Homo sapiens: one gene and its partner. The protein of the gene in region 1 interacts with the protein of each later gene in a biochemical or structural test. Each region holds a gene or a part of one and is shown on either strand. Other genes may lie near its edges.

The links.
Region 2: of the proteins of UCK1 (region 1) and USP28, one has a biochemical effect on the other in vitro, tested with the Homo sapiens proteins (one study listed by BioGRID).

What each region holds. Positions count from the first base shown.
Region 1 is NC_000009.12:131,522,677-131,529,457, reverse strand, and holds the end of UCK1 (uridine-cytidine kinase 1), read left to right. Parts: intron 1-187; coding exon 188-330; intron 331-419; coding exon 420-514; intron 515-2,954; exon of another isoform or gene 2,955-3,013; intron 3,014-3,480; coding exon 3,481-3,529; intron 3,530-4,236; coding exon 4,237-4,418; 3' UTR 4,419-5,657; downstream 5,658-6,781. Other genes in the region: POMT1 (protein O-mannosyl-transferase 1), read right to left, coding at 6,352-6,526. UniProt on the Homo sapiens protein: Phosphorylates uridine and cytidine to uridine monophosphate and cytidine monophosphate. Does not phosphorylate deoxyribonucleosides or purine ribonucleosides. Can use ATP or GTP as a phosphate donor.
Region 2 is NC_000011.10:113,797,375-113,802,979, reverse strand, and holds the end of USP28 (ubiquitin carboxyl-terminal hydrolase 28), read left to right. Parts: intron 1-1,301; coding exon 1,302-1,497; intron 1,498-3,564; coding exon 3,565-3,740; 3' UTR 3,741-5,105; downstream 5,106-5,605. UniProt on the Homo sapiens protein: Deubiquitinase involved in DNA damage response checkpoint and MYC proto-oncogene stability. Involved in DNA damage induced apoptosis by specifically deubiquitinating proteins of the DNA damage pathway such as CLSPN.

The DNA of each region.
Region 1 (6,781 bases):
AGAGGGGCCAGCTAGGACGTCCCCTCGGGCTCACACAGACCTGCCTGGCGGCAGGCCTCCCCCGGTTGGTTTCTGTGGGTCCCCCACCCCTTCCCACAGTCAGTGTCCCTGCAATGGAAGCTGACTGTGTGTGTGGCCTGGAGACCCTGTGTCTGCAGCAGAGCCCCTTTCCCCGTGCGCCCCTCAGGTTACCAGAGACCACGGTGGTCTACCCTGCGGACGTGGTTCTGTTTGAGGGCATCTTGGTGTTCTACAGCCAGGAGATCCGGGACATGTTCCACCTGCGCCTCTTCGTGGACACCGACTCCGACGTCAGGCTGTCTCGAAGAGGTAAGGCGGCCGCGGGCCTCCGTGCCTGCCTGGCCGAGGCTGGCGGCAGGTCCTGAGGTCTGAAGCACGCCTGCCCCTTGCCGCTGCAGTTCTCCGGGACGTGCGCCGAGGGAGGGACCTGGAGCAGATTCTGACGCAGTACACCACCTTCGTGAAGCCGGCCTTCGAGGAGTTCTGCCTGCCGGTACCTGTGCTCGCTGCTTCAGAGCCCATTTTCCCCTTTCACAAGGACACATGGGACCCAGTACTGTGAGAGGGCTTAGTGCTGGGTGACAGTGATCTGATTGAAAAAAAGGAGAAGAATTTGGCTCATTATGGCCACATACCCTGGGAGTAGTTCTCAGCTGTAAAAACATTCTCTGTGCCTGCTCCTCCCTCTGCCTAAAAAAGCCCCATATCTCCCCCACATTCACACTGGCCGCTTCCTCCCTGCCTCAGGCCCTTGCCCAGCGTCCCCATTCAACACTGAAAACCCTCTGCACCCAGCGCCAGCCTCTCTGCCTGCTTCCTTTTTCCGGGGCACTTACCATCATCTGACACGTCCTGGGTGCTTATTCCCCGCAGAGTGGGGAAGCCCAGGAGCACTTTAGTCTGTTCACTGCCAAGGCCGGGATCTGGCCCTCAGAAGGTGCTTCAGAGCTGCTCCTCCAGGGTCTGTGACCCCAGGCTGCTCTGGGCCAGTGCTCTGAAATCTTGGAGTGAGCGCTGTGCCCAGATCCCAGCTGGCTCGCAGAGAGCAGGAACTCCCCGCTGCACACCCACCTGTCTTTTCTCCATTTCTCCATCTTGTGTTTCTGGCTTGGTGGGACTCGTGGCTCTACTCAAATGGGAGTGTTTTGCACGGGAACATTTTGCCTGTTAAGGTAAAAATACAGCACAAAGGAACTGAAACCAAGATTCCTGCCTTTGATAATGTAGGACAAGTAAGTTCTATCTGCTGCTTTTTTTTTTTTTGAGATAGGGTCTCTTTTTGTCGTCTAGGGTGGAGTGCAATGGCACGATCTCGGCTCACTCCAAACTCCACCTCCCAAGTTTAAGCAATTCTCCTGTCTCACCCTTCCGAGTAGCTGGGATTACAGGCGTACGCCACCACACCCAGCTAATTTTTGTATTTTTAGTGGAGATGGGGTTTTGCCATGTTGGCTGGGCTGGTCTCGAACTCCTGGACTCAAGTGACCCACCCACTTTGGCCTCCCAAAATGCTGGGATTGAGCCACTGTGCCTGGCCTTTTTTTAAATTTTATTTTTAATGAGGCAGAGTCTTGCTCTGTTGCCCAGGCTGGAGTACAGTGGTGCAATCACAGCTCACTGCAGTCTTGACCTCCTAAGCTCAAGCGATCCTTCCACCTCAGCAACCCGAGTAGCTGGGCCCACAGGCGTGCACCACCATGCTCGGTTAATTTTTAAATTTTTTGTAGAGATGGGGTCTCCCTGTGTTGCCCAGGCTGGTCTCCATCTCCTGGGATCTAGTGGTCCTCCCACCTCAGCTTCCCAAAGTGCTGAGATTACAGGTGTGAGCCACTATGCCTGGCCTATTGGCTGCTATATAAAGAAAACTTTTGTTTTTTTTTGCATTCATGCTGTCTGAAATTTCTAAAATATAATTTTAAAAGTAAAGTTAACTTGTTTTAGTCTCTCATTCACAGAAAGATATTTGGCAAAAAGTAGGTGATTCGCAGTAAAACTCTGGATATCAAATCTGCCTCAGCGACCTGAGTAGAGGAAGTGCTGTCACCTGCTATGTTCTGGGCCCAGGCCCCAGAGATGTTTTTGGTTGGTTTGTTTGCTTGCTTGTTTTTTGAGACAGGGTCTCCCTCTGCCACCCAGGCCCAAGTGCAGTGGTGAGATCTTGCTTCACTGCAGCCTCCACCTTCCACTCTCAAGTGATCCTCCCACCTCAGGCTCCTGAGTAGCCAGAGACTACAGGCACGCACCACCACGCCTGGCTAATTTTTCCTTTTTTTTTTTTTTTTGCACAGACGGGGTTTTGCCATGTTGGCTGGGCTGGTCTCAAACTCCTGGCCTCAAGCAGTCCACCCACCTCAGCCTCCCAAAGTGCTGGGATCACCGGCGTGAGCCACCGCACCCGGCCCCAGCCCCACCCAGAGCCGTTCTTGAGCCTCCTTTTCCTTCACCTTCATGTTGAGTGGCTTGTGCAGTCCTCTGCCTGGACCCCGTAGGTATTTCCCAACTGTATTCAGGCCCATCCCTGCTGGCGGTTAAGACCCCTGTCAGCTCTCCCGGACTCCTCCAGCCCGTCAGACTATCAGACTAGAATAGAAAGCAGCCCTCGCCCTTGCGCTCGTGCTTTCATGAGATGGGGTCCCACCAACTGCAGACACAGCTGTCCCCAGGACTTGGTCCCTGTCTGCCTCTTGCAGCTTGTCTCTTCTGCCGCCTTCTTGACCCAAATCCACACGCCAGCAGCACGCACCGTTCCAAGTTCCGTCCTTCGGCCCAGACCCTGCCCTCCCTCTTCCCTCAGCTTTGTCTGATTCAGCCATGTTCTCCAGGCTGCTTCCCCTTCCCTAAAGCCACCCCCCAACCCCCACCATCTGGCTGCGGACCCTCCCCAGCAGCCCTGCATTTCCTGATATATCTCCATCCTTGTCCTTCCTCAGCAGCAGAGCATCTGACAGGGAATGAGAGTCAGCATTGAGCCAATGAGTGGTTGGATGAGGGAGTAAGTTACCATCAGCGTCTCTGCCTGCAGTAATTATGCACGGCGGCGGCTGTCCTGTTGCTGTGCCAGGGTATTTGCAGAAGCTTCATGATTCCAGAGGAACAATGTCACACTTTGTAGAAGTGCCACACTTAGCTTGGCCCAGTGAATTGAGTCGTTAGCGTAGCCAGCTGTCTCCTGTAATGGAGTGGGAACACTGGAAGGGGGCTGTCTTCTGTGATGGAATGGGGACACTGGAAGAGGCACTTTCTTTTGGCTGCCTCAGCTGCACTTTCTGCCTCACTTCTTGGATCATGGCCTCTCACACCTGGCTGATGACTGAGTCTGTGTCCCCCATTTGCCGATGACACCAGCACCTCTGAGCACCCCAGGGCCGCCCCTCCTGCTGTTGCATCTGTTTCTGAGCATCTTAAAATCACCTTTGAAGGAAAAGTCCTCACAGGAACACCCCCCCTTGTGCCTTACAGACAAAGAAGTATGCCGATGTGATCATCCCGCGAGGAGTGGACAATATGGGTAAGAAGCTGGCCTGCTGGGCTGTCCCCCCGCCCCTCCCAGAGCTTGAGGCAGGGACAGTTCCACCAGTGTGCAGTTACTGAGCACTCCCCTGCGCACGCGGCCTGCCAGTGTTGATCTGCGGCACAGGGTTAAAATATGCTTAAAAATGTATGTAGCTGGGCGCGGTGCCTCACACTGGTAATCCCAGCACTTTGGGAGGCTGAGGCAGGGGGATCACTGGAGCCCAGGAGTTCAACAGCCTGGGGAACATAGCAAAACCCCATCTCTACAAAAAATAAAATTATTTGGGCATGGTGGCATGTGCCTCTGGTCCCAGCTACTCAGGAGGCTGAGGTGGGAGGATTGCTTGAGCCTGGGAGGTTGAGGCTGCAGTGAGCTGTGATTGGGCCACTGCACTCCAGCCTAGGCAGTAAAGTAAGAACCTGTTTCTTAAAACATATATATATGTATATTCAAATCTGTTAGCAGAAAGTACTTTAAGCAGACTCTAACATAAATTCCTGGAAGACCAAGCTAAGAAGTCTTATTTTGCTGTGTCCTGATGCATGTTTCTGTCTGCTGAGATTTGACTCGATGCCCCTCGCCGCAGGCTGTGCCTCAGGGCAGAGGTTGGGCGCTCACTCCTGGCCGAGTGCTGCGGGGAGGGGCGGTCTCCACGGAGGATGGATGCGGCTAACCCGCTGCTTGTCTGTCTCTTGGCGCAGTTGCCATCAACCTGATCGTGCAGCACATCCAGGACATTCTGAATGGTGACATCTGCAAATGGCACCGAGGAGGGTCCAATGGGCGGAGCTACAAGCGGACCTTTTCTGAGCCAGGGGACCACCCTGGGATGCTGACCTCTGGCAAACGGTCACATTTGGAGTCCAGCAGCAGACCCCACTGAGGGGCTGCCGAGCCTCAGGGCAGGTCTCCCGCCCGGCATGTGTGTTCAGGGACTGAGCCTGGGGACGCCCACCCACACCCACTGCTTCCTCTCGGCGCACCCCAGGGGAGTGTTAGCAGCGAGGCCTTCCTCACTCAGGAGTGGAAACTCAGATGTGTCACTCAGACTCAACTTGCTGGGACACTGACAGGCGTTCCTGAGGTTTTCAGCCACTTAGGCTCGTTGCGGTTTAAAGATCCCTCTAGGTCACTGAGAAATGCCACAGAATGTGCAGGAAGCCTGGGAGGCTTCTGTGAGGAATGTGAGGCACATTATTGGGGAAATTGAGGAGACAGCCTAGACACTGGCTGGCCTGATGTTTTGTTGACAGTGAACCCACAGTGGGAGAGAGTTTTTTCCAGTCTGATCTGGTTCTTACACACTCACACACATAACTCAAAAGTTTTGTGAACAAGTACTTTCCTTTTTTACATGTTACATGTCCTCATGTTTTCTGTTTTCTGTTTCATAACACAAGGCTGGTTGTGGCCTACAAACCTAATTTCATGACCCAGTGGTTTGCAGTCCAGCGTGGCCTACACGGATATGGGGAGCCACTGAGGGATGTTTTCCCCCCTTGCTTGTGCCTTAAAGGCAGAGAAGCGAGGCGGATGCCCTGGAAGCACCCAGCATCACACCCAGGCTTGTGCGGGGCCAGGCTGGGAGCCCATGCAGTAGGGCAGAAGGCAGCGGAGGCCAGGTCTGTCCCGGCTGGAGAACAGCGTCCACGCAGTCCTGCCTGGGGTCAGGCCCTCACTGACCCTCAGGGGAGCCCCCAAGGTGCTGTCTGTCTAGACAGGCTGTCCCACCCCAGGGTGGCTAGTGGCCATATGCAGGGAATGGTGCTTCTGGCTGTGGCACGCACTGGATCACCCAGGTCCCAGCAGACATGGCCGCCCAAAGTCAGCAAGCCTCCTTTGTGCTATGTGGAGCTCACAGCCTCACATGTGAACACCCGTGTCTGGGTTGCCTGGGGTGATCCTCCCTCCTGCGTGGTGGCTGTCTCTGGAAAGCATCCCTTGCCGCTGCCATGGGCAGCCCCAGCCCCCGTCCGTCCAGGCTCACCCACAGTAGTGATGCAGACGTGACGTGGGGGAAGGGGGCTGAGCCCTGTGGCTGGGTTCTGACAACTGTAACGGTTTTGTCGAGCTTAGGCCCCTTTGGAGGGAGAATCAATAAATAACAAACACCAACTACAAACGCCAGTTGGTTCCTTTTTTAATTACATTTAAAAAAGACAAAGGCATGGAGCTGTATGGATGACACACCTTGACCACTGACGAGGAAGATTTCACTCAGCCACGTCTCAGTGGAGTCTCAGAGGGGAGGGTTTCCACACAGCACGGTGCCAAGGGCCAGTCTTGACGCTGTCATAGACAATGACATGCAAGCCCCAGCCCTGGCTCGTGGTTCAGGTGGCCCTCCAACACTGAGCTGTCCCAGGACGCCTGCCGGGCTCGCTGAGGGCAGGGCCGGGACTTGCTCAGGTTGCTGGGTGTTCATGAAGGAGGATCGGGTCTGCCAGATCAAACTCCACCCTGCAGCAGTTAGCAAGGACCAGGCCCTGGTCTGCTGAGGCTCCACTGCTGGCCCTGGGTTCTCGGCTTTTTGTTGTCAATGACTCCTACGCTGGCCTCTGAAATACTCCCTGTGTCTTAGTTCAGGGGTAAAGACACGGAATATCTTTATTGTCGAGAAAAAATTAACTTTGCACAAAAGGAGGTGCTCATCAGAGAGCTTTTCAATGAGACCCCCATGTGTTCCACTAGAGGCCCTGCTCAGCCCAGCCCGTGTCCTCCCAGCGTGGGGCCCACCCTGCTCATTACGTACATTGACCAAGACCCTTCAACCTCATCCCGACCCCAGCACGGGTGTTCTTTGCCACACTCTTGTTCTAGTGTTTTCGGATCAAGATGTCCCAGCTGTCTTTCCAGCGAAGGGCCTTGAGTTCATGTGGCGAGAGTGACTTGTCCCCGTAGGTGAGTGGGCGCAGCGTGTTGGACACGTGGCACGCGGAGGAGTACCAGGCCACCACCAGGGCGCTGAAGATGCTCCTCTGGAGCTGGGACCTGCAGAGGTCAGAGCAGCGTGGGGGAGGGTGGCTGACCACTGCGGCTTCCCTGCCCGGCACCCTCTTGGCATCTGCTGTCCACACGGTCACCCCCCGAGGCCTGGGGTTCTGCCTTCAGGTTTCTGTGTCTTGTCTCCTGCCACCCATGACCATCTCCCACCTGGATGCACTGAGAGGGGCCCCCTGATGACTCCTCAGGCCTCCACAGTGGCTGGGCCACCTCCACACAGATGCCAGAGGACTGGTCCCAAAC
Region 2 (5,605 bases), on another chromosome or scaffold:
TCATTCTTCTTCAATGATAACTGATAGAAGTTAAGATGAGAATCAGTCATCCCTCTGTGTGCCCTTCATGTATGCCTGCATTATAGATTTTATCACATTGCTTTCCTACTAGGTTGTAAATTCCTTGAGCTCAGATCCTTTTCTCACTCAGCCATTTCCTCTGTGCCTGTCATGTAGGAACCATGTAATAAATGTGTGTGGAAGGAATGCAGCATTTTTTCCATGTTCACATTTAAGCTGGTAGACTTAAAGTTTTAGTGACTTCTGACACTCCATTTTTTTAAAATAAAGGTAGGAACTGTAAGAATTGGTCCTGCTGTTCTGATAACATCATTGTCACATACTAGTGAAGACTAACTCTCTCCTGGCCTGATTTGCACTGTATAACTACATGGAAAGGCAGACCTACATCCCCTTGCCTCCCCAGGGGTTTATGTGATGTGTGTCCTTTGGAGAACTGTAAAGGGGTGGCCTGCCTTCAGAGTGTGGGCTTGTGTGTGTTTTCACCAATACCCAGCAAATTTGCCCTTCACAGAAGTCAGGCCAATATTTCTACCACTGCCTTTACCTTGTTCATACCGAATGGGTGAGATTAAGTCATGACATATACTCAATAGCTTTATTTTCTGATTTATACTTTGACATCTGTATTAGTTATAGGTGTGGCAGGGCCACTTTGAAGCTGAAAAGGGATCTTGTTGGTTTGATGGATCTGAATTTTATTAGAGCCATGTTTTTATATTTTAAATCACCAAATAGATTGACATTTTGAATATCCTACTCAGCTTCTGAAGTAATGCAATTATAGGGATTTAGACTCTTTCCATTATTGAGTCCCAACCCCTAGTGTGCATCAGAATCATATAGGGAGCTTTCAGACAGTCGTGAAGCTCAGGCCTCTCCCTAGCAATTAAACCAGAATCCCTGGGAAGGGCCCTGGGCATCAGTGTGTCTTCTGCAGGTGATTCTGATGCTCAGAGGAGATAGACAACCAGTGAACAGGTCTTTGGTTGAAACAGGTGTTAAGCATGACCTTGACTTACAAGTTTAGGCCAATGGGTCATAAACTTTACAGCATTAGAATCACTTTGGGAGCTTTCATAAAATCCCAGTGTCCCGGTCATCTAAACACTAATTAAATCAGCTTATCAGAAGTGGGAACCAGGCATCAGTAGTTTTTAAAGATCCCTAAGTACATCCAATGTGCAGTAAAGTTTGGGAACCACTTGTTTAGACTGTTATTAAAGAGATATTTATCTTTTTCAGACTCTTCCCCACCTAATTCTACCTTTTATCTGTAGGAGCTGAATGCCAAAGCAGCTTCTCTTTTTGAAACAAATGATGATCACTCCGTAACTGAGGGCATTAATGTGATGAATGAACTGATCATCCCCTGCATTCACCTTATCATTAATAATGACATTTCCAAGGATGATCTGGATGCCATTGAGGTCATGAGAAACCATTGGTGCTCTTACCTTGGGCAAGATATTGCAGGTATATGCTCTTGGTAATAATATTCTGAGGTTTTGAGAATTGTAGAAATTTCAGTGTTCTCACTTGATAGCACTGGTTGCCAAACCTTTTTAAGGAATTGGAACCTTCTAGCATATAAGTAAATTAAAAATGGATCTGCTCTATTGAAACAAGAGGAGGGAGCCTGGGCCTCTGCCCCTCTTAACCTCCCTTTAGCTTCCCCATGACTGCCAAATCACCTCCATGGGCAACCAACAAGCCTGGTTTGAAAAAAGTCACTGCTCTCCAGGAATGTCAGACTTCCATTACTCTCTCATGTGCCAAAAGATGAACTCTTTTATAGTTTAAAAATCAAAATCTGACTGGGTGCAGTGGCTCACACCTGTAATCCCAGCACTTTCAGAGGCCGAGGTGGGCAGATCACCTGAGGCCAGGAGTTCAAGACCAAGTCTGGCCAACAAGGCGAAACCCCATCTCTACTAAAAATACAAAAATTAGCTAGGTGTGGTCATGGGCGCCTGTAATCCCAGCTACTCGGGAGGCTGAGGCAGGAGAATCACTTGAACCTGGGCAGCGGAGTTTGCAATGAGCCGAGATAGCACCAGTGCAATCCAGCCTGGGCCACGGAATGAGACTCCATATCCAAAAAAAAAAAAAAAAAATCATGCAGAGTATGGTTATGGGAGGGGTGCCTTGATGAATTTTTTCTGTGGCTTGAAGTTATATAGCATATTAACTATGATGACTTCAAGATTAATTAGTGGACTGTCCTTGCTTGTTTAAAGCATCTTAAGGAGGGAATGTAAAGCTGGTTGTTTTTAGGTGAGTTCAGTAGACTTGGAAAATTGTTATATATTCTGATATGAATCCTCTTTGTTAGGTTCTCACTGACATAGAGATACTCTATTGATGGGGCTAGGCACAGTGGCTGACACTTGTAGTCCCAGCACTTTGGGAGGCCAAGGTGGGTGGCTCACTTGAGCCCAGGAGTTTGAGACCAGCCTGGGCAACATAGTGAGACCCTGCCTCTACAAAAAATGAAAACTTAGCTGGGTATAGTGTAGTTCTAGCTACTCAGGAGCCTGAGGTGAGAGGATTGCTTGAGTCTGGGAGGCCGAGGCTACAGTGACCCAAGATCATACCACTGCACTCCAGCTTGGAGTGAGACCCTATCTTTAAAAAACAAACAAAACAAAAAAGGCCGGGCGCAGTGGCTCACGCCTGTAGTCCCAGCGCTTTGGGAGGCTGAGGTGGGCGGATCACGAGGTCAGGAGATGGAGACCATCCTGGCTCACATGGTGAAACCCCGTCTCTACTAAAAATACAAAAAATTAGCCGGGTGTGGTGGCGGGCACCTGTAGTCCCAGCTACTTGGGAGGCTGAGGCAGGAGAATGGCGTGAACCCGGGAGGCGGAGCTTGCAGTGAGCAAAGATGGCGCCACTGCACTCCAGCCTGGGCGACAGAGTGAGACTCCGTCTCAAAAAAAAAAAAAGATATTCCATTGACTTGTTCAAGTGTTTAAGTTGATAGTATTTATTTAAAAATCCTGTAATAGCTAGTTGCCATGTGTTTCCCTTTACTGTCTTCAGTTTTTATTTAGACCAAGCTTGTCCAACCTGAAGCCCAACACAAATTTCTAAACTTTCTTAAAACATTATGAATTTTTTTTTAACCTCATCAGCTATTGTTAGTGAGGTTCATGTGTGGCCCAGGGAAGCCAAAAGACTGTACACCCCTGATTTAAAACCATGTGTATACACTGATATATTGTAAACATTTGAAAGAAAATAATTACCATCATATCTATGCTAGAGTATCATATCTACTTCCTTGTATTTTAAGAAGACAATTGGTTAGAAGACCCTTTCGTAATAAAGTAATTATATAGTTGTTATATAGCAGTGAGCTAAAGTTTGGTTTATTTGCCTTTGCTCCTGGTTTGGCCTGAAGGAATAATCATTTATTAGTAACTGGCCAGCATAATGCTTTGACCTTTGAGGTTAGGTAAGGGGCTAATAGAAGGCTTGTTCACTTTTACTCAGAAATCTGTTTAGCTGTATATGTAACCATCTGTTTTCCCTCCACAGAAAATCTGCAGCTGTGCCTAGGGGAGTTTCTACCCAGACTTCTAGATCCTTCTGCAGAAATCATCGTCTTGAAAGAGCCTCCAACTATTCGACCCAATTCTCCCTATGACCTATGTAGCCGATTTGCAGCTGTCATGGAGTCAATTCAGGGAGTTTCAACTGTGACAGTGAAATAAGCTCCCACATGTTCAAGGCCCATTCTGGTTCCTGGCTGCCTGCCTCTTGCACAGAAGTTCGTTGTCATAGTGCTCACCTTGGGAAAAGGATTAGGTGGGCACATAAGATTCCGATCAGACCCCAACCATGCTGCATGTGTAAAGAAGGATTGAAAATAAAATTGCACTTTTTAGGTACAAAATCATAAAAGCTGTTTCACTAGAAAAGGCAGAAAGCAGTGTATTAAGGTGTTGAATTACGCCAGAAGACCTGAAATGCCTTGTACCTACAACAATGCTTAGGCTTTTCTAAGCCTCTTGCCACTTTTAAAATTATCCTTCAGGCATAAATATTTTTGACAGCAGAATAGAAGAATGATTCATGAGAACCTGAACCAGATGAACAGCTACTAGTTATTTTATCAAATACAGATGACATTTAAAAATTCTTAACTACAAGAGATTAGAAATATAAACCTTGCCTGGCTCTTGCCAGGAGATAACAAAATGGGTTGCTGATGAACTGCACCCTTTTACATGTGGGTAGAATATAAGCTCACATGGCAGTGAGATGTTGAAAAGTCAAAAGAGACCTGTCTCTCTCCTTTCTTTTCTATCTTTAAACCAGAAAACCTCATACTCAGTCCTCAGTGAAAGAAAGTAAAGTATTAAGGACTTTAGACAGAAGAGCATTGTGTAACTTGACTGAAGATCATCCATTAATAGTTATTAGGCATTTAGGTAAAATTTTCTAATACCTAAAAATTGTCAAAAACAGTCAATAGGGCTACTGCTGGCCCAAAGACCATTTAGGTCCACCTCCTCTTTTTTGCTCTTTTTTTTTTTCTGTGACAGTTTCACTGTGTCGCCCAGGCTGGCGTTCAGTGGTGCAATCTCAGCTCACTGCAAACTCTGTCTCCTGGGCTCAAGTGATTCTCGTGCCTCAGCCTCCCGAATAGCTGGAATTACGGGCATGCACCACCACACCTGGCTAATTTTTGTATTTTTAATAGAGATGGGGTTTCACCATATTGGCCAGGCTGATCTCTAACTCCTGGCCTCAAGTGATCTATCTGCCTCCCTCAGCCTCCCAAAGTCTGGGATTGCAGACAAGTCATCGTACCCGGCCTTCTTTTTTGCCCTTAAAAGTAAGGGATGTGGGTTTGTACAAAAAAAAAAAAAAAAAAAAAAAAACCAGCATACATATGCAAAACTATATATATATGTATATGTAGAGAAAAATACTTCCCATTGATCATTTTTAAAAGGCTTCTGATTGGATATTGTGTTTTAACCAAATTTTAAAGATTAATGGAATCATGAAAGGGAAAAAAATTGATACAACTATGCAGATTTTATAAATGTGCAATAAAAGTATTTGTTTTACCTTTGGTGTGCAGTATGGTCTTTATTTAAATATATATTTTCCATTTGGGAAATGGACATACTTGGTATTTGTCTTGTTCCAATTTTTCTTCTTTAAAACCAAAAAGCAGATTAGAGGGTTGATAAACTGGATGGGGACTGACGCGCCAGTGTTTGAAATAAAAGGCAACAGTCAATTATTGAGCAGCACCTAGTGGTAACTGAAGCTTTTTAATCTCATTGGCTATTTGCATTGCATGTAAGCTTATCTACTTTGTCAAATTTTTGAATGCAAAAACAGCAATTTTCTTAGAATGGAGTTTCTTATGTAGTCATTCCTCAGCAGACACCGGCAATTGCTGGGACCCCTGCATATACCAAAATCCATGCATACTCAAATTCTGTAGTTGGCTTTGCAGAACCCACATATAGGAAAAGTTGACCCTCCATACACTTGGGTTTTCACATGCTGTGAATACTCTATTTTCAATCTGCATTTGGTTGAAAAAAATCCTCATGGG